2 separate regions of the Homo sapiens genome follow, and region 1 is linked to region 2. Evidence: fine-mapped expression QTL. A gene starts in region 2. The other region holds a variant in brackets. All regions are shown on one strand. Distances are from middle to middle.

Region 1 (9,929 bases), 83 kb after region 2:
CCACACCCGTCTAATTTTTGTATTTTTAGTAGTGACAGGGTTTCACCATGTTGGCCAGGCTGGTCTCAAACTCCTGACCTCAGGTGATCCGCCCACCTCAGCCTCCCAAAGTGCTGGGATTACAGGCGTGAGCCACCGCGCCCGGCTGGAAGGTGCTAAATTTTTGTTTTTCTTTCTTTTTTCCTTTTCTTTTTTTTGAGACGGAGTCTCACTCTGTCACCCAGGCTGGAGTGCAGTGGCGCGATCTCGGCTCACTGCAAGCTCCGCCTCCTGGGTTCACGCCATTCTCCTGCCTCAGCCTCCCGAGTAGCCGGGACAACAGGCGCCCACCACCACACGTGGCTAACTTTTTGTACTTTTAATAGAGATGGGGTTTCACCGTGTTAGCCAGGATGATCTCGATCTCCTAACCTCATGATCCACCCGCCTCGGCCTCCCAAAGTGCTGGGATTACAGGCGTGAGCCACCACGCCCGGCCGGAAGGTGCTGTTTTATTAAATACCTGGGTCAAGGAATAAATAGATACATGGACCATTGTAATCTGGACCATTGTAATCTAGTTAGCAACAACTACCATATATTAAGCACTGAGCACTGGGCTAAGCGCTTGACATGCATCACTACAGCCCTTCAGAGAAATTCTATCACTCTCCGCATTTTACCCACTAGGAACCTGAGGCCAAGAGAGAGCAAGCAACTTCCCCCAGGTACAGAGCTCCTGAATGACAGAGATAGGTTTTATTGATTTCAATTAATCTTTTTTTTTTTTTTTTTGAGACAGAATTTCGCTCTTGTTGCCCAGGCTAGAGTGCAGTGGTGTGATCTCGGCTCACTGCAACCTCTGCCTCCTGGGTGCCTCATCCTCCCAAGTAGCTGGGATTACAGGCATGTGCCACCACGCCTAGCTAATTTTGTATTTTTAGTAGAGACAGGGTTTCACTGTGTTGGTCAGGCTAGTCTTGAACTCCTGACCTCAGGTGATCCACCCGCCTCAGCCTTTCAAAGTGCTGGGATTACAGGCATGAGCCACCGCACCCAGTGTCAATTAATTATTATTATTTTTAATAGAGATGGGGTCCCAGGCCGGGCACGGTGGCTTGTGCCTGTAATCCCATCACTTTGGGAGGCCGAGGCAGGTGGATTGCTTGAGCTCAGGAGTTCAAGACCAGTGTGGCCAACATGGTGAAACCCCGTTTCTACCAAAAAATAAAAAAAATAACTGGGTGTGTTGGTGGGCACCCGTAATCCCAGCTACTCTGGAGGCTGAGGTGGGAGAATTGCTTGAACCCAGGAAGTGGAGGTTGCAATGAGTGTAGATCTCGTCACTGCATTGCAGCCTGGGCATCAGAGTGAGACTCTGTCTAAAAAGAAAGAAAGAGAGATCCTTCCTGGCTAACACGATGAAACCCTGTCTCTACTAAAAATACAAAAAAATTAGCCAGGCGTGGTGGAGGGCGCCTGTAGTCCCAGCTACTCTGGAGGCTGAGGCAGAAGAATGGCATGAACCTGGGAGGCGGAGCTTGTAGTGAGCCGAGATCGCACCACTGGACTCTAGCCTGGGCGACAGAGCGAGACTCCGTCTCAAAAAAAATAATAAAAAAGAGAGATGAGGTCTTGCTATGTTGCCTAGACTGGTCCTAAACTCCTAGGCTCAAGTGATCTTCCCACCTCTGCTTCCCAAAGTGTTGGTATTATAGTTGTGAGCCACCACGCCCTGCCAAGAGCTAGAGTTTTGGTTTTTTTTTTTTTTTTTTTTGAGATGGAGTTTCGCTCTTGTTGCCCAGGCTGGAGTGCAATGGCATGATCTTGGCTCACTGCAACCTCCACCTCCCAGGTTCAAGCTATTCTCCTGCCTCAACCTCCCAAGTAGCTGGGATTACAGCCATGTGCCATCACGCCCAACTAATTTTGTATTTTTAGTAGAGACGAGGTTTCTCCATGTTGGTCAGACTGGTCTTGAACTCCTGATCTCAGGTGATCTGCCCACCTCAGCCTCCCAAAGTGCTGGGATTACAGGCATGAGCCACCACACCCGGCCCTAGGTTTGTTTTAGACCTAAGTCTGCGTATCTGCAAAGACCACATTCTTCAATACTTCACCACCTCACTCCTCTTACTCTATTGCCCCAGTACCCAGTGAAGTAGGAACCATTGGAAGTTAAGGAGTTGGGACTCACGAGAGTTCAAGACCATCCTGGACAACATAGTGGGAACCCATCTCTGCAAAAAAAAAAAATTAGCTGGGCATGGTGATGGGTGCCTGTAGTCCCAGCTGCTTGGGAGGCTGAGGCAGAAGGATCACTTGAGTCTAGGAGGTTGAGGCTGCAGTGAGCCATGAGTGTGCCACTGCACTCCAGCCTGGGTGACAGAGAGAAACCATGTCTAAAAAATAATAATAATTGGGACTTAGACATACTGTATAATTCCATTTACATGAAATATCCAGAATAGGCAAATCTATTGAGACAGAAAGCAGATTAGTGGTTGCCTAGGGCTGGGGAGAAGGGCAGTTGGGGAGAAATGGGGAATGATGGCTAATGAGTATGGGCTTTCTTTCTTTCTTTCTTTTTTTGAGATGGAGTCTCACTCTGTCATGCAGGCTGGAGTGCAGTGGTGCGATCTCAGCTCACTGCAACCTCCGTCTCCTGGGTTCAAGCAATTCTCCTTGCCTCAACCTCCCGAGTAGCTGGGATTACAAGTGCCCACCACCACGCCCTGCTAATTTTTGTATTTTTCTAGTAGAGATGTAGTTTCACCATGTTGCCCAGGCTGATCTTGAACTCTTGACCTCAGGTGATCAGCCCACCTTGACCTCCCAAAGTGCTGGGATTACAGGTGTGAGCCACCACGCCCAGCCTGAGTATGGGCTTTCTTTTCAAAATAATGAAAATATAAAATGGCTTGTTGTGATGGTTGCACAATTCTTGAATATACTAAAAGCTGTTGAATGATACACTTTAAGTAGGCAAATTGCATGGCATGTGAATTACATCTCAACAATGCTGTTATGAAAAAAAAAGAGGCCGGGCACAGTGGCTCACACCTGTAATCCTAGCACTGGCCGAAGCGGCTCACACCTGTAATCCCAGCACTGGCCGAAGCGGGTGGATCATGAGGTCAGGAGATCGACACCATCCTGGCTAACACGGTGAAATCCCATCTCTACTAAAAATACAAACAATTAGCTGGGCATGGTGGTGGGCACCTGTAGTCCCAGCTACTCCGGAGGCTGAGGCAGGAGAATGGCGTGAACCCGGGAGGCGGAGGTTGCAATGAGCCAAGATCCCGCCACTCTGCCACTGCACTCCAGCCTGGGTGACAGAGCAAGACTCCATCTCAAAAAAAAAAAAAAAAAGATAAAAAGAGAGGGATGGGGCTCAGGAATCCCACCTCTGCCACTTACCTGCTTGGCACATGACTTCATACCTCCCAACCTCAGCTTCCTTAACCAATAAAATAGGAAAAATAAACATCTCCTGGGTCTTTTGTGAGGATTAAATGAGATAATACATATTATTATTCCCATTTTATCAAGGAGGAAACAGGCCCAGAGAAGGGAAGTGACTTGGGTGCAGATGGCACAGCTGGTGGGTGGCAGGTGAGAGACTCAGGCCTGGGTCTCATGGCACCACCCCATCTTTTAGCATTGTGTAGAGTGGACCAGTGTCTGCACACTCCACCCACCCCTTCACCAACACTCTCTTCCATCTCCCTCCTTCTCTTGGGCTCTGGGGCCCTGTCTCCCCACTGCTCACGCTCAGAACAAGTGGAGGTGGCTGAGTCCCCCCAGAGCACAGGACACCCTCTCCCCCAGCCCCCACCCTGCTCCCCTCCTGGGGCCATGATGCTGTCTTGCTTTTGCTTGTAATAAAGAAAATATCTCAGCTACCCTTCCATGGTTGCTTGGCAACCCCGAGGGGGGTTGGGTGGGGGGGACCAAGGGGAGGAGGGATGGGGGAGGATTCTGGAGCCAATCTGGAGACAAAGAGTAGGATTTGGGTGACATGGAGCCTGTTCTTAGTGCTAACCTGGCCTGGCTGGGGCGGCGGGTGGGGGCAGCGGGCTTCCTCCCACCCCAGTGTCTCACACCAATAAATATGGATTAGGGAAATGGGCTGAGTTTTTCCCACGGGCCTGAAAGGCCGCATCTGACCTTTCTACCCCCTTTATGTACCAATGTGACAGTCAGAGACAGCAAAGAGCAGGACCCCCTGAGATGCCTCCCCCATGGCCTTCTGACTTGGGGAAACTTTTCACCCTCCTCCTTCCCCTGGCCACAGACCAGGTCACAGCTCTGCCTGGGCCCTTGTTCCGGGGATGAGAAGGAGGCTGGTTTCCAGGTGGGCGCCAGGAGCTCCCATC[C/G]TCAGTGTCCACTCCGGGCCCTGCTGGCCGTGACCGGTGCAGAGCCAGGCTGTGAGGCCCTGGACTGGTTAGTGACGGCCCTGCCTGCCTCCTAGACAGTCCTCTGCTCTGTGGCTCCCCCATCCTGTCCCTGCCCCATCTCTGCCTGGGCCGCCTCCATCAGGAGCCCTATCGTCCGTGTCCCTTTGCGTCCCTCTCCTCAGATACTTCCCACCACCCTCTTCTCGACTTGGTTTCCCTCTTTCTCTCCTCCTGCCAGCCCCCCACGCCCCAGTCGTCCATGAAACTAGGAAGCCCTTGTGGCTGAGGTATCTCCTGCAGTGAAGAGGGCAGGAAGGGTTGTGGAGGGGGAGGTGGGGGCCGTGATCTCACTCCCTGGTGCCCTGACTTTCTGGTCGTTGGCCGGGGGTGGGGATCGGCTGCTCTGAATGGAGTCAGTGTAGAGGCAGGAAAAGCAAACACCTCCGTGTGGGCCCTGCTGGCAGTGGATGGGAGCGGTCGGGGGGCAGGGGCCTGGGCTCCTCTCAGCCTCCTTGATCAGACCTCTCCCCACTCCTGAGGCTCCCTGTCTTCCTGGACCTTTGGCCTACAGTGTCCAGAAGGAGAGTGGGGTGAAGGTTTAGGGGGAAGCCCTCTGGGAGACGTCTTTGCTCAAATCTTTCCCTGCTCCTCTGCCCAACCCCCAGCCAGTGCCCTTCCTGCCCAGCAGATGCCAGGAAAATCTGTGCCCGGGAAGGGCGGTCTGGCACCTGAGGGCCCCGCCTGACCAGTCCTTCTCAGCAGCAGGAGCTGGGTGGGAGTCACCTTATGCCAGAGACGCCCCAGCAGTGCCATCCACCTCCTGGGCTGAGGAGTACCCCCAAGAGGCTCTGCCCGGGTGAGTGCTCCTCTGGCCCCACAGCCAGGCAGTGAGGGAGGGAGAGGTTGTCCATGTCGGGGCTCCCCAAGACCCCCACAATCTCCGTGAGTCCTCATGGTTCTGTGGCCTTTTCTGTTGTGACTGTCTCACCCTCTGTCTGGGACTCGTGTGTCACTGATGGTTTGGTGAGGGGAGCTGAAGGGATGGTTAGAGAAGCTGGAGGAGAGGGCTGGGAATGTGAGGAGGTAGGAGGGGCTGGAGTCTAGGGTATAGGACTCCTGGATTCCCAGCCAGGTTTTTGTGTTTTATTTTTATTTGTATGATTTTTAAATTTCTGTTTTAAAAGATGAGGTCTCTCTTGCATGGAATATATCTTTATATTAAAAAAAAAAAAAAAAAGATAAGGTCTCACTATGTTGCCCAGGCTGGTCTTGAACTCCTGGGCTCAAGCAATCCTCCCACCTCAGCCTCCCTAAATGCTGTGATTACAGGCCTGAGCTACCGCACCCAGCCTAGCCAACTTTCTGATTAGATTTGTGAAATCACAGAGGCTGCTGTAATGGTTTCCTTTTAACACTTTGGATTCTAAAAGACCTTTGGAATGAGCTCAGAGAGAGTTAGCAGTTCATCCCGGGTGACACAGCAAACTGCTGGTACTCAAACCCACCAGGCCCCCTCATCACACCGCAGGCTGTTTGTGTTATGGAAGCCATCTTTGACCACCTCTCTCTTTCCCTCTCCACATGCAGTTTCCCCCTGAATTTAAGAGGCTGAGGGGTGGAGGGAGCCGACTCTGCCTAGCACCTCCAGGCCTTTCCTTTCTGTTGTCTCTCCAGGCACCATGCCCAGGGCCCAGCCTAGTAGCAGGAGCAGCCCCTGCCTGGGCCTCAGAGCGCCACAATCTCCTCTGACTATCCCTGGGAAGCCGTGGTTGGCTTTTGCCTTACATCCCCCAGAGAATGGCGTCTTTGTTCTTGGTGTCTAACCATAGTCCCTCATGTTGTCTTTAAAGCCCAACCACTTCCCAAAAAGCAAGGTCAACAGCTGACTGCATACCACAGCACCCCAGTGGTTCCTGCTTTGAGGTGGGACCTGGCTGGGGGGACCCTGCCGAGTAGAAACAGGCATTCCTCACTGGGTCAGGCTCTGTTCTGAGGTCGTCCACGTACCTTGCTGAATGGTGGTCACCACATTCCTGCAGTGTGGAGTCAGTTTTACAGATTGGAAAACTGAGACACGGAGCATTGAAGTGACTCATCTGTGGACACACTGCGAGAAAAAGAGCTGGGATTCAAGCCCATAGCTTGGCTGCAGAGCCCAATCCCTTAAACGTTCTTCCATAGTGCCTCTGATTCCTAGGAGGCCTCCGCTGGAGGTCATTGCATTCAATCCCCTGCATCTGGATGTCTACCCAGGCCCACCTCTGTTCACAGATAAAAATCAATCAAGCTTTTTTTTAAATAAACTTTATTTTTATTTTTTGAGACACAGTCTCACCCTGTCGCCCAGGCTGGAGTGAATGGCCACCATGCTTGGCTGATTTTTGTATTTTTTGTAGAGATGGAGTTTTGCCATGTTGCCCAGGCTGGTCTTGAGCTCCTGGGCTTAAGTGATCCACCTGCCTCAGCCTCCCAAAGTGCTGGGATTACAGGCGGGAGCCTCCCAAAGTGCTTGTCCAACCTCGTTTTTAAAGGCAACTGCAGCTGGGCACAGTGGTTCACGCCTGTAATCCCAGCACTTTGGGAGGCCAAGGAGGGCTGATCACAAGGTCAGGAGTTGAGAGACCAGCCTGGCCAATATGGTGAAACTCCATCTCTACTAAAAATACAAAAATTAGCCAGGCGTAGTGGCGGGTGCCTGTAGTCCCAGCTACTCGGGAGGCTGAGGCAGGAGAATCGCTTGAACCCGGGAGGTGGAGGTTGCAGTGAGCCAAGTTCGCGCCACTGCACTCCAGCCTGGGTGACAGAGCGAGATTCTGTCTCAAAAAATAAATAAATAAATAAATAAATAAATAAATAAATAAAGGCACCTGCTCCAAGGATGGAATTTCCCCTGGGGATAAGCAGACATTTCTTTATTCATAGCCTTCTGGCAGGGAGGGAAGACCCTCCCAGCCAGAACTCACCATGTCCAGCTGCCTCGTTGTTCCTCTCTCCTTCCCACTGGAGTATAATTTCAGGAAGGAAGCGGCTCCGCCTTGAGTATTGGCTCCACAACCTCCAGGCTGTGTGGCGTTGGACAAATGACTGAACTTCTCTGAGCCTTAGCTTATCAAGTGTAAAGTGGAGCTAATTATACATCTGCTTTGTGAGTCTGAAAAAGTTTACATGATAAAAGGGTATGAAGGTCTGAAAGGGCTTAGTGAGCACAGTGCCTGGCACCTCTGAAGTGCACAGGACCAAGTGGCAAATACTTCTCACTGCATCCTGAGGGGTCGTTCCCAGACCCTGAGATCCCACCCAGCCACAGCCAAGTCACCTTCTGGGTTGTCTTACTTAGCCATGGGATTGTCCCTGTTCCCCTGTCCCCTCCCTAGTCCGGGTTCTGGCCTCAAGAAAGAAGGCCCTAGGGGTAAAGGAGTTGGAGGAGGGGGGCTTGGCAGCACCACCATCACCACTGTCATCATCCTCATTGAAACTCTTCTACCTGCAAGATCAGAGCCTCGTGCTTTTGGCCTTATAGTTTAGCCTTCTTACTACAGATAGGGAAACTGAGGCCCACAGTGGGGAAGGACTTGCTCAGGGTCACGTAGCAAATTGGTGGTGGAGCAGGAACTAGCTCTCAGTCCTCCACATTCCCGGTTGGTTTCCCCTGTCTCTTCTTGATGACTGCCCACCTCAAGTCCTCCCCTGGTGTGCCTAGGGTGTGGGGCCTGGCACCCAGTCCTGCCTGGCAGAGCCTGGAGAGAAGTGAGCCGCGGTTGGTGGAGTAGTCGCAGCGGCCCGGCGCGTTCTCAGCCCGGCTCTTTGTCTGCTGCTTTGTGATGGTAAGTGCTGCTCCTAAATCAGTTCTGTGACACTGTTATTGTTGCCCAGGGCGCAAAGAGTCTAAACTTTTCCCCTGAGGTCAAGAATGTGGCTGGTCCCCAAGCCGCCCAGAGCAGAGGCCTGGGTGGCTGGGGGTGGGGATGGGGCCTCGCCCCGAGCTGGGGCGAGATGTTGGGGGGAGGGGGTCAGCGGGAACAAAACGCTTTGAAATGCCTCCTCTCCATCACTGCCAACATTGTCCGCTGCCCGCGGGGGGCCTGGCACCGCCTCGCCGGGGCTCCGGCCCCCAGCCCTGGCCAGGCGCGGCCCGACATCTGAAAATGGACAGAAGGTTATTGTCCCTTCCCGCAGCCCTTTGTCTGCCCCAGTTCCAGATGTCTAGGCTGGGACCAGGGAACTGACCCATGGTGGGCAGGGGGGAGAGGACAAAAAGGGAGAGCACGGGTCACTGCATCCTGAGGGGTCGTTCCCAGACCCTGAGATCCCACCCAGCCACAGCCAAGTCACCTTCTGGGTTGTCTTAGCCCTGAGATTGTCCCTGTTCCCCTGTCCCCTCCCTACTCCAGGTTCTGGCCTCGAGAGAGAAGGCCCTAGGGGTACAGGAGTCAGAGCAGGGGACCTTGGCAGACTCACGGACGGGGCTGAATCCAGCTCCACCCGGTAACTGTGTGATCTTGGACAGGTGTGGCCCTCTCCCAGCCTGCTTTCCCCATGTGGGGACCACGGACCAGGTTCATTCACAGGTAATGATGGAGCCCTCCTACGTACCAGCTCTGAGCTGAGCATGGGGGCACGCGGTGGTGCATGGGCCACTTGGATCCTGCCCTTGACCATTGTGGTTAAATAGAAGAGTAACAGGCAGCATTTCCCACCCACTACCTCTGGGTCAGGTCCTGGGCTAATCACTTCATCTGCGTCATCTCATCCTTTCCATAACAAAATCAAAGATGCAGAGGCGTTTTTCCTGTCTCCATTTTGCAGCTTTGGAGACTGCTAGACTCTTGAGAGGTCCAGTCACTTGCCCAAAGCCAGGCAGTCTGGAGGCAGCAGAGCTGGGATTCTAGCCCAGGCCGACCGTAGCCACCAGGAGGAGTAATTCGCTAATAAATACTTGGAAAGAATCGAGCACAGAACCTGACACAGCTCCAGACTCAGAACTGGTGGTGTTTACTCCATGCATAGAGTGTCCCCATTCCACAGGTGGGGCGACTGAGGACAGGGAGAGAAAGCCTGGGGCAAAAAGCTCCAGGGAACTTAAACAGTAACACCAACAGCAGTTCCAGAGTCACCAGGGCTGGCCAGAGTGAGACAGGCAGACTTGGTTTCAAACCCCAAACCCCAACTCTGGATGAGCTTGGCAAGTGATTTATTTAGATTCTCCGTGCCTCAGTTTCAAGGTTTCCTCTTCTGTAAAATAAAAATATTCCCAACTGGCCAGGCATGGTGGCTCACACCTATAATCCCAGCATTTTGGGAGGCCAAGGCGGGCAGATCACTTGAGGTCAGGAGTTCAAAACCAGCCTGGTCAACATGGTGAAACCTCATCTCTACTAAAAATACAAAAATTAGCTGGGCCTGGTGGCACGTGCCTGTCATCCCAGCTACTTGGGAAACTGAGGCAGGAGAATTGCTTGAACCAGGGAGGTAGAGGTTGCACTGAGTTAAGATAGTACCACTGCACTCTAGCCTAGGCGGCAGAGCAAGAATCCATCTCAAAAAAAA
Region 2 (9,837 bases):
TAGTACAGAGTGGCGACTCAATACATTATACTTCTTATTGTTACCATATAATAGAGTCATTGAATATCACAAGTCCAACGGGTTTTTGAGGTTTCTGGTCAAACCTCTAGATTCCCTGACACATGCCTTAATCACATCTAGTGATGGGGACACATTACCAGAACCAGTTCCATTGTTGGGCAACTTTATTCAGTAAAAAAATCACTCTTTCGGCTGGGCGCAGTGGCTCACACCTGTAATCCCAGCACTTTGGGAGGCCAAGGTGGGCGGATCACCTGAGGTCAGGAGTTCGAGACCAGCCTGGCCAACATGGTGAAACCCCATCTCTACTAAAAATACAAAAATTAGCTGGGTGTGGTGGCACACACCTGTAATCCCAGCTACTTGGGAGGCTGAGGCAAGAGAATAGCTTGAACCTGGGAGATGGAGGTTGCAGTGAGCTGAGATCACACCACTGCACTCCAGACTCCAGCCTGGGCAACAGAGCAAGACTCTGTCAAATAAATAAATAAATAAACTTATTCTTTCCCAGAAACCCAAAACCCCTACCTTAGGACTTCTACCTAGGGTCTCATTTCTCACCTGGAGTCCCAGAATAGAAAAAGGGTCAGCAAACTACAGTCCACAAGTCAAACCTGAAGACTGAAGACTGTTTTTTTTTTGTGTGTGTGTGTTTGCTTGTTTTGTTTTGTTTTGTTTTGAGATGGAGTCTCACTTTGTCACCCAGGCTGGAGTGCAGTGGCGCCATCTCAACTCACTGCAACCTCCACCTCCCAGATTCAAGCGATTCTCATGCCTCAGCCTCCTGAGTAGCTAGGATTACAGGCACCTGCCTCCATACCTAGCTAATTTTTTGTATTTTTAGTAGAGACGGAGTTTCATCATGTTGGCCAGGCTGGTCTTGAACTCTTGACCTCAAGTGATCCGCCTGCCTCGGCCTCCCAAAGTGCTGGGATTACATGAATGAGCCACCGCATCTGGCTTGTTTTTTGTGGCCTATGAGTTAAGAATGGTTTTTGCATTTTTCAGTGGTTCAAAATAAATCAAGAGACCAGTTGCAAGGGCTCACGCTTATAATCCCAGCACTTTGAGACGCCGAGGCAGGCAGATCACTTGAGCCCAGGAGTTCAATACTAGCATGGGCAACGTGACAAAACCCCATCTCTACAAAAAATACAAAAATTAGCCAGGCATGGCCGGGCGTGGTGGCTCACACCTGTAATCCCAGCACTTTGGGAGGCCGAGGCGGGTGGATCACGAGGTCAGGAGATCGAGACTATCCTGCCTAACATGGTGAAACCCCGTCTCTACTAAAAATACAAAAAATTAGCTGGGCGTGGTGGCGGGCGCCTGTAGTCCCAGCTACTCGGGAGGCTGAGGCAGGAGAATGGCGTGAACCCAGGAGGAGAAGCTTGCAGTGAGCCGAGATCGTGCCACTGCACTCCAGCCTGGGCAACAGAGCATGACTCCGTCTCAAAAAAAAAAAAAAAATTAGCCAGGCATAGTGGCCTGTGCCTGTAGTCCCAGCTACTCGGGAGGCTTAGGTGAGAAGACTGCTTGAACTCAGGAGGCAGAGGTTTCAGTGAGCCGAGATCTCACCACTGCCCTCCAGCCTGGGTGACAGAGTGAGACCCTGTCTCTAAATAAATAGAATACTACAGTTGTCCCTTGGTATCCAAGGGGATTGGGTCCAGGATCCCTTGCAGATACCAAAATTTGTAGATGTTCAAGTCCCTGATATAAAATGGCATAGTATTTGCATATAACCTAGGCATGTCGTCCCATATACCTTTTTTTTTTTTTTTTGAGGCAGAGTCTCACTCTTTCACCCAGGCTGGAGTGCAGTGGCACGATCATGGCTCACCACAACCTCTGCCTCCCAGGTTCGTGCGACTCCTCGTAACTCAGCCTCCTGAGTAGCTGGGATTACAGGTACGTGCTATCATGCCCAGCTAATTTTTACTAGAGACGGGGCTTTGCCATGTCTTGAACTCCTGACCTCAAGTGATCCGCCCACCTTGGCCTCCCAAAGTGCAGCGATTACAGGCGTGAGCCACCACACCTGGCCACTTTTTTTTTTTTTGAGACTGAGTCTCGCTGTGTCGCCCAGGCTGGAGTGCAGTGGCACGATCTCCGCTCACTGCAAGCTCCGCCTCCTGGGTTCACGCCATTCTCCTGCCTCAGCCTCTGGAGTAGCTGGGACTACAGGCGCCCACCACCACGCCCGGCTAATTTCTTTGTATTTTTAGTAGAGACAGGGTATCACCGTATTAGCCAGGATGGTCTCGATTTCCTGACCTCGTGATCCGCCCACCTCAGCCTCTTTATTTTTTTTGGAGACAGAGTCTCACTCTGTCACCCAGGCTGGAGTGCACTGGCACAGTCTCGGCTCACTGCAGCCTCTGAACTCCTGGGCTCAAGTGATTCTCCCACCTCAACCTCCCGAGTAGCTGGAACTACAGGCATATGCCACCCCACCTGGCTAATTTTTTTTTTTTTTTGAGACAGTTTCACTCTTATTGTCCAGGCTAGAGTGCAATGGCACAACCTAAGCTCACCGCAACCTCCGACTCCCGGGTTCAAGCAATTCTCCTGCCTCAGCCTCCTGAGAACCTGGGATTATAGGCATGTGCCACCACACCTGTCTAATTTTGTATTTTTAGTAGAGACGGGGTTTCTCCATGTTGGCCAGGCTGGTCTCGAACTCCCGACCTCAGGTGATCTGCTCGCCTCAGCCTCCCAAAGTGCTGGGATTACAGGTGTGAGCCACTGCACCCGGCCTTTTGTATTCTCTTGTAGAAGTAGGGTTTCCCCATGTTGCCCAGGCTGATGTTAAACTCCTAGGCTCAAGTAATCCACCGCCTCAGCTTCCCAAAGTGCTGGGATTACAAGCATGAGCCACCAGGCCTGGCCTTCCCATATATTTTAAATCATCTCTAGATTACCTTTTTTTTTTTGAGACGGAGTCTCGCTCTGTTGCCAGGCTGGCGTGCAGTGGCACAATTTCGGCTCACTGCAACCTCCGCCTCCCGGGTTCAAGTGATTCTCCTGCCTCAGCCTCCTGAGCAACTGGGACTACAGGCGCCTGCCACCACTCCCGGCTAATTTTTGTATTTTTAGTAGAGACGGGGTTTCACCATGTTGGCCAGGATGGTCTCGATCTCTTGACCTCATGATCCACCCTCCTCGGCCTCTCAAAATGCTGGGATTACAGGCGTGAGCCACCACGCCTAGCTAGATTACTTATAATGCCTAATATAATGCCTATGCATCACCTTGAGTGGATTCAACACAGTACTAGGTGCACAGCAAATTCAAGTTTTGCTTTTTGGAACTTTGTGTTTTTCTTCCCAAATACTGCCAATCTGAAGCTGGATCATGGGATGTGGAACTCATGGACTCAGAGGCAACTGTACTTAGTGACACGTGAAAATTACCTGAAGTTCAAATATGAATATTCATAAAGTTCTATTGGAATACAGCTAGGCTCATTCCTTTAGATACTGTCTATAGCTGTTTGGCACTACATTGGCAGAGTTGAGCAGTTCCAACGGAAATCACATGGCCTGAAAACTAAAACATTCAGTATCTGGCCCTTTCCAAGGAAATCTGCCAATTCCTGGTCTAATACCTCACTCCTCTGTGGACCTTCAAGGGCCTGGCACAGGAATCTGAGCACTGGGACACTGACTCGGCTCAGGGATTTCCTGGGAAGTGACACACAGGATCCTGCTTAAATCTGCCTTACCCAGTGGATGGTTGATGAAAGAGGGTACGCTGGTGGCTGTGAGGGTCAGCTCCTTCTCTTCGCTGCCTTCCATGGGGCCCAGCAAGAAGCGAACACGCTGTTTAGGAGCGGGAGGCTTCCTGGCATTGAGACCTGAACACACAGAGATAATATATACACACATACATACAAATATATGTACATATAAAATATTTTTTAAGAGACAGGGCCTCGTTCTGTAGCCCAGGCTGAAGTGCAATGGCGCCATCATAGCTCACTGTAACGTCAAACTCTTGGGCTCAAGCGATCCTCCTGCCTCAGCCTCCAGAGTAGCTGGGATTACAGGCGTGCACCACGATGCTGACCAGGAATATCTTGTTCTGTCCAAACACTTGGGGGATTAGACAACAGGGAAGTATGATGTAGAAGACAAAGCAGAAGCCCATGGTGCAGAGGGCAGTATAGCAGTAGTTAAGAAACAGGCGGATTCAAACAGACTCTACAACGTAGTAACCGTGTGACAAGGAACAATACTGAGTCAGTTTCCCCCTCGGAAAACAGAGGAAAGTGAGGAGTAAGAAAGCACAGAGAACAGGCGTTTGGGAAAGCGCTCTGCCCAGGTGAATAGGTCACGTGATTTTGTTTTGGGGTAAGGACCAGAAGCGGAGATGGACTTCCAAGAGAACGAGAGCGGGAACGTGGGTCTGGTTCGAGGCACTCACCCTTCAGAAGTTGTAGCTCCACTGTATCCCGCAGGTGCTTCCATTTTAGCCCCGGGGGCTTATAGACCGCGAAAAGCCCATGCAGCCGCGACAAGCCAGCAGACCCCATACTTGAAGATCACAGCACCCGCTGGACCTGGACGGAAGTACCGCCAGGCCCCGCCCCCAAATGTGGTCCTTTCCACGGGCGCCGCCATGTTCCACAGCCGGAAGAGGTTCGCATTTTATAGTCTTCGGGGAAAACCGGCTGTGGAGAAGGAAATAGGGCCCGGCGCTGAGTGAGCGTGGTTGCGTGTCCTTTGCAGACACTTTCTGGGGCGAGGTGACATGGCGAGAGTCTTGGATCGGTGGACGTAGACGGTAGACAGTTCGCGTGCGTTTCCTTCGCCTACTTGGCCTACATGCCTTCTGCCCGTGAAGCGATGTTTCCCCTCGAAAGGCCGTAGGCTACGCCGTCAGAATCGGTTTTTCAGTGAGTTTTGACCCCTCCGACGCTCCGTCGCCTGACAGAATCGCGGCGTTCTTCGTACCCGCCCATCCTCCGCGGACGCCCGCTGCCATGGCGACTCTGCTGCGCCCTGTCCTCCGTCGGCTCTGCGGGCTCCCGGGCCTACAGCGGCCTGCGGCAGGCAAGTGGCGCCGGGTTCTGGGCGCAGGCGGGAAGGAGCCTGAGGGCGCCCGGCTCCTCTGACCTCGGCCTTTTTCTTGCCCCGCAGAAATGCCCCTCCGGGCTAGGAGCGACGGCGCCGGCCCGCTATACTCGCACCACCTCCCCACCTCCCCGCTGCAGAAAGGGCTGTTGGCCGCCGGCTCCGCGGCGATGGCGCTCTATAACCCCTACCGCCACGGTAAGGCCGCCCGCGCCTCGCCCCCGTGGGGGCGGCTTGGAGCCGTTTCCTGTGGGTAACTGGAACATAGCCTAGGTCGGGGTACCCAAACCTGGTTGCAGCTCGTAACCACTCGGAACGTTTATGAAAATGCAGATTCCTGGATCCCACCTAAACGCACTGAATCTGAATCTGAATCTGCAGTGGAGGGAGAAATGGGCGTGAAACCGAAAGTCTGTCTTTAAACTACTTGGGAGAATCTGTCATGCAGCCATATTGAGAACATCTAGACTAAATAGATGATTCATAAGTACCGATCAGTTTATAATATCCTACTAGAAAGTCAACTCCGAGGTCGAGGACCATGTCTGCCTCGTTCCACTGCATCTGCAGCCTTCTGGATAGTGCCTGGCACATAGTAAATGCTCAATAAATGTTTGCTGGATGTGTGACTAGAACATTCTAGGGTTCTACAGTGTTTTTCTTATGCCTCCTAGATTTTTGAGTTCTGGGAAGTACTGTTATTCCTACTAACAAAAACAGGCTAGGCGCTATTATAGTGGCTCACGCCTATAATCCCTATCGGGGGGCCGAAGCGGGCAGATGGCTTGAGCTGAGGAGTTTGAAACCAGCCTGGGCAACACGGTGAATCCCCATCTCTACAAAAAAAAATACAAGAATTAATTGGGGCTGGTTGCATGCGGCTGTATTCCCAGGCTGAGGTGGAAGGACCATTTGAGCCGGGGAGTTCGAGACTGCAGTAAGTTGTGATTGCGCCATTGCACTCCAGCCTGGGCGACAGAGCGAGACCCTGTCTTAAACAAAAAATACACTATATCTCCATGTCCCCAGTGGTTTTTTGTTTGTTTTGTTTTGAGACACAGTATTGCTCTGTGGCCCACGCTGGAGTGCAGTGGCGCAATCTCAGCTCTATGCAACTTCCACCTCCCAGGTTCAAGCGATTCTCGTGCCTCAGCCTCCTGAGTAGCTGGGATTACAGGCCTGTGCGGCCTGGCTAATTGTTGTATTTTTAGTAGAGACGGGATTTTGCTATGTTGCCCAGGCTGGTCTCAAACTCCTGACTTCAGGTGATCCTCCCACCTCGGCCTCCCAAAGTGTTGGGATTACAGGCATGAGCCACCACGCCCGGCCAAGACCAGCGAATTTTTTAATTTTTTTGTAGAGACGGCGTCTTGCCACGTTGCCCAGGCTGCTCTGGAACTCTTGGCCTCAAGTGATCCTCCTGCCTCAGCCCCCCAGTGTTGAGATTACAGGTGTCAGCCGCTACACTTGGCCACTAAGTGTTATATATATATGATTTTCATGGTTTCTCACATTAACCAGCTAAGAAAGGTGTTGTCTGCACTTCACAAATTAAGACACTGAGGCTGAAAAATGTGAAGCAGGCCAGGCATGGTGGCTCACACCTGTAATCCCAGCAATTTGGGAATCCAAGGTGGGAGGATCACTTGGGGCCAAAGTTCAAGACCAGCCTGGGCAACATAGCAAGACCTCATCTCTACAGAAAATTTAAAAAACTAGCTGCATGCCTGTAGTCCTAGCAGTGAGCTATGATCACACCACTTCACTCCAGCCTGGGCAACAGAGCAAGACCCTGTCTCAAAAAAACAAAACAAAACAGAAATGTGAAGCAATTTGTACTAGGTCACCTAGATAGTGAACACACCTGGACTGTAGCCCAGCATCTCTGATGCCTAAGCCTCTACCAATCAATGGAGACATGATATTGTATTGTGAAAAGTGATTTATAAAATCTTTACAACGTTGTGCTAACTAGAGCTGTCCCGCCCCAGTAGATTAAGAATAAGAACTATAGATATGTATACTGATCCCTTGTTGTGTGCTGGGTAATTTGCTAAGTGTTTAGCCTGAATCCTTATAACAAAGAGCTAGACATCATCCCTAATTTATCCTGTAGGAAACAAAGGCTCAGACCAGGTCAGCTAACTTACCTAAGATGACATCCCCCATTTGTGCCCGTTTCTGTCCTTTCAGACATGGTCGCAGTTCTAGGGGAGACCACAGGACACCGCACCCTGAAGGTCCTCAGGGACCAGATGAGGAGGGATCCAGAGGGTGCCCAGATCCTGCAGTAGGTCCCAGCTCTGCCTGGGGGTCTGGGGGCATTCTCTAGGTATTCTGACCTCTCTAGAATCACATTGTGTTTGTTCTGTTCCGCTAGGGAGCTTTTGATACCCTGGCTACATATGGTTGCACAGGCTGGGCACTGCCCAATTCCAGGGGTGTCATTCACATACATGTGTATACACTGATGACTTCCGAGTTGTGCAGTGTGATAGCCTTGGCCCAGTTTCAACCACAGGGCTCTGTGCCTTCATTAAGTTCCCATAACATGTGCTGGCTTTACCCCTCCCTTGCAGTACCTTTTGCAAGTACTCTGGTCACATTCGAGGACTGTCTTCCTGCCGAGATTGTACCCCTGCCCATGTCCTTGGTTTGGGGTAGTATCCTAAGTCCCTGACACTAGCCTGGCCAGTTGTAGGTGCTCCATTAAGGCTTGTGGTGGCCACATTGCTCCTCTGTACATTCTCCCGCCCCTCAGCTCGCTGTAGTTGGATCGTTCACCTACCTTTGCCCACACCCTCCCAATGCCCAAGTCTTGCCTTTCAGGGAGCGTCCCCGGATTTCGACATCCACCCTCGACCTGGGCAAGCTCCAGAGCCTGCCGGAAGGCTCCCTCGGTCGCGAGTATCTCCGTTTCCTGGATGTGAACGTGAGTTTTCAGCTCCTGTGTATCTGGCAGTCACCAGACAGGACAGAGGAATAGCACAGGCATGACACCCTGAGGAAAGAGGAGCCCTGAGCTGCCACCATTGGCAGGAGTGCTCTTCAGGCTCATGCCAAGGCTTTGTCATTTTCTATGGGATAGGCAAATGGGTGGGAACATGCCTGCAATTGATAATACTGGCCAGTGTTCATTAACCTCGCACTGCATGCCTGATGCCAGCCTCATCCGTGATCTTGCTGAATCCCCCCACAACTCTGTCAAGTATGTTCTATTATTATCCTCTTTTAGCAGATAAGGAAACAGAGGCTCAGAGCAGTGAAGCAAACTTGCTAATTCCACATAACTGGTATTAATGGAGATAGTAATCAATCCCAGATCATGCTCTTCACTGCTGTACTGTATCCCTTTATTCCAGGGACATTGCTTTCCCTACGGTATGGCAGGTGTGGCACTCTCCAGCCCCTCCAGCCCCAGGCAGGGAGGACAAGGAGAGGGGGAAAGGGGGTGTCCCGACTATTGGCAAACTCATTCACTAACTGAGGCTCTGCTATGTGCCATCCCTTTTTTTTTTTGAGTCGCTCTGTCGCCCAGGCTAGAGTGCAGTGGTGCGATCTCTGCTCACTGCAAGCTCCGCCTCCCAGGTACACGCCATTCTCCTGCCTCAGCCTCCCGAGTAGCTGGGACTACAGGCGCCCGCCACGACGCCCGGCTAATTTTTTGTATTTTTTAGTAGAGACGGGGTTTCACCGTGCTAGCCAGGATGGTCTCGATCTCCTGACCACGTGATCCGCCCGCATCAGCCTCCCAAAGTGCTGGGATTACAGGCGTGAGCCACAGCGCCCGGCCCATCCTTTTTGTTTTGTTTTGTTTTGAGACAGGGTCCCGCTCTGCCACCCAGGCTGGAGTGCAGTGGCGCCGTCTCGGCTCACTGCAACTCAGCTTCCTGGGTTCAAGCGATTCTCCTGCCTCAACCCCCCACGTAGCTGGGACTACAGGTGCACACCACAACGCCCAGCTAATTTTTGTACTTTTAGTAGAGAGGGGTTTTACCATATTAACCAGGCTGGTCTTGAACTCCTGACCTCAAGTGATCCACCTGCCTCAGCCTCCCAAAATGCTGGGACTACAGGTGTGAGCCACCGTGCCCAGCCCAACCATTGTTTTGTGTACAGGGGATATAATGGTGAACTAGACAGCCAAGTTCCCTGCCCTCATTTCTATTCTACTTCGAGAGGTAGACAATAAAATAGTTTTTAAAAATTTTCAGGGAAGGCACAGTGGCTCACATCTGTAATCCCAGCACTTTGGGAGGCTGGCGGGAGGACCACCTAAGGTCAGGAGTTTGAGACCAGTCTGACCAACATGGTGGAAACCTGTCTCTACTAAAAATACAAAAATTAGCTAGGTGTGATGGTGTGCGCCTGTAATCCCAGCTACTCGGGAGGCTGAGGCAGGAGAATTGATTGAACCCGGGAGGCACAGGTTGCAGTGAGCTGAGATCACACCACTGCACTCCAGCCTGGGCGACAGAGTGAGACTCTGTCTCCAACAAAACAAAACAAAAAAATTCATATAAAAATACAGGTAAAATGTTTCAAGTAATTAGAATATTCTGGCACTGGTCCATGCGTGTTGGCTCATGCCTGTAATCCTAATACTTTGGGGGGCTGAAGTGGGCGGATCACTTGAGCCCAGGAGTTTGAGACCAGCCTGGACAACATGGTGAAACCCTGTCTCTGCAAAAAATGCAAAAATTAGCCAAGTGTGGTGGTGTATACCCATAGTCCCAGC

Evidence for each region. PIP is the estimated chance that this variant, and not a neighbour inherited with it, causes the effect.
Region 1: its variant is fine-mapped to the expression of COQ4 in esophagus mucosa (GTEx, PIP 0.99).

What each region holds. Positions count from the first base shown.
Region 1 is chr9:128,400,851-128,410,779 of GRCh38, forward strand. No RefSeq gene overlaps it. Among named protein-coding and RNA genes, the nearest start is that of MIR219A2HG, 12 kb to the left of the region's middle. RefSeq lists an enhancer at 3,907-4,707. The variant C/G (reference allele first, on the strand shown) is at 4,362.
Region 2 is chr9:128,317,851-128,327,687 of GRCh38, forward strand. COQ4 (coenzyme Q4) reads left to right here and starts at 4,989. Exons shown (of 7, transcript NM_016035.5): 1 at 4,989-5,078; 2 at 5,166-5,297; 3 at 7,293-7,389; 4 at 7,929-8,031. The coding sequence starts at 5,009. TRUB2 (TruB pseudouridine synthase family member 2) reads right to left here and starts at 4,597. Exons shown (of 8, transcript NM_015679.3): 1 at 4,450-4,597; 2 at 3,749-3,880. The coding sequence starts at 4,558. RefSeq lists an enhancer at 4,297-4,836 and a silencer at 5,217-5,276.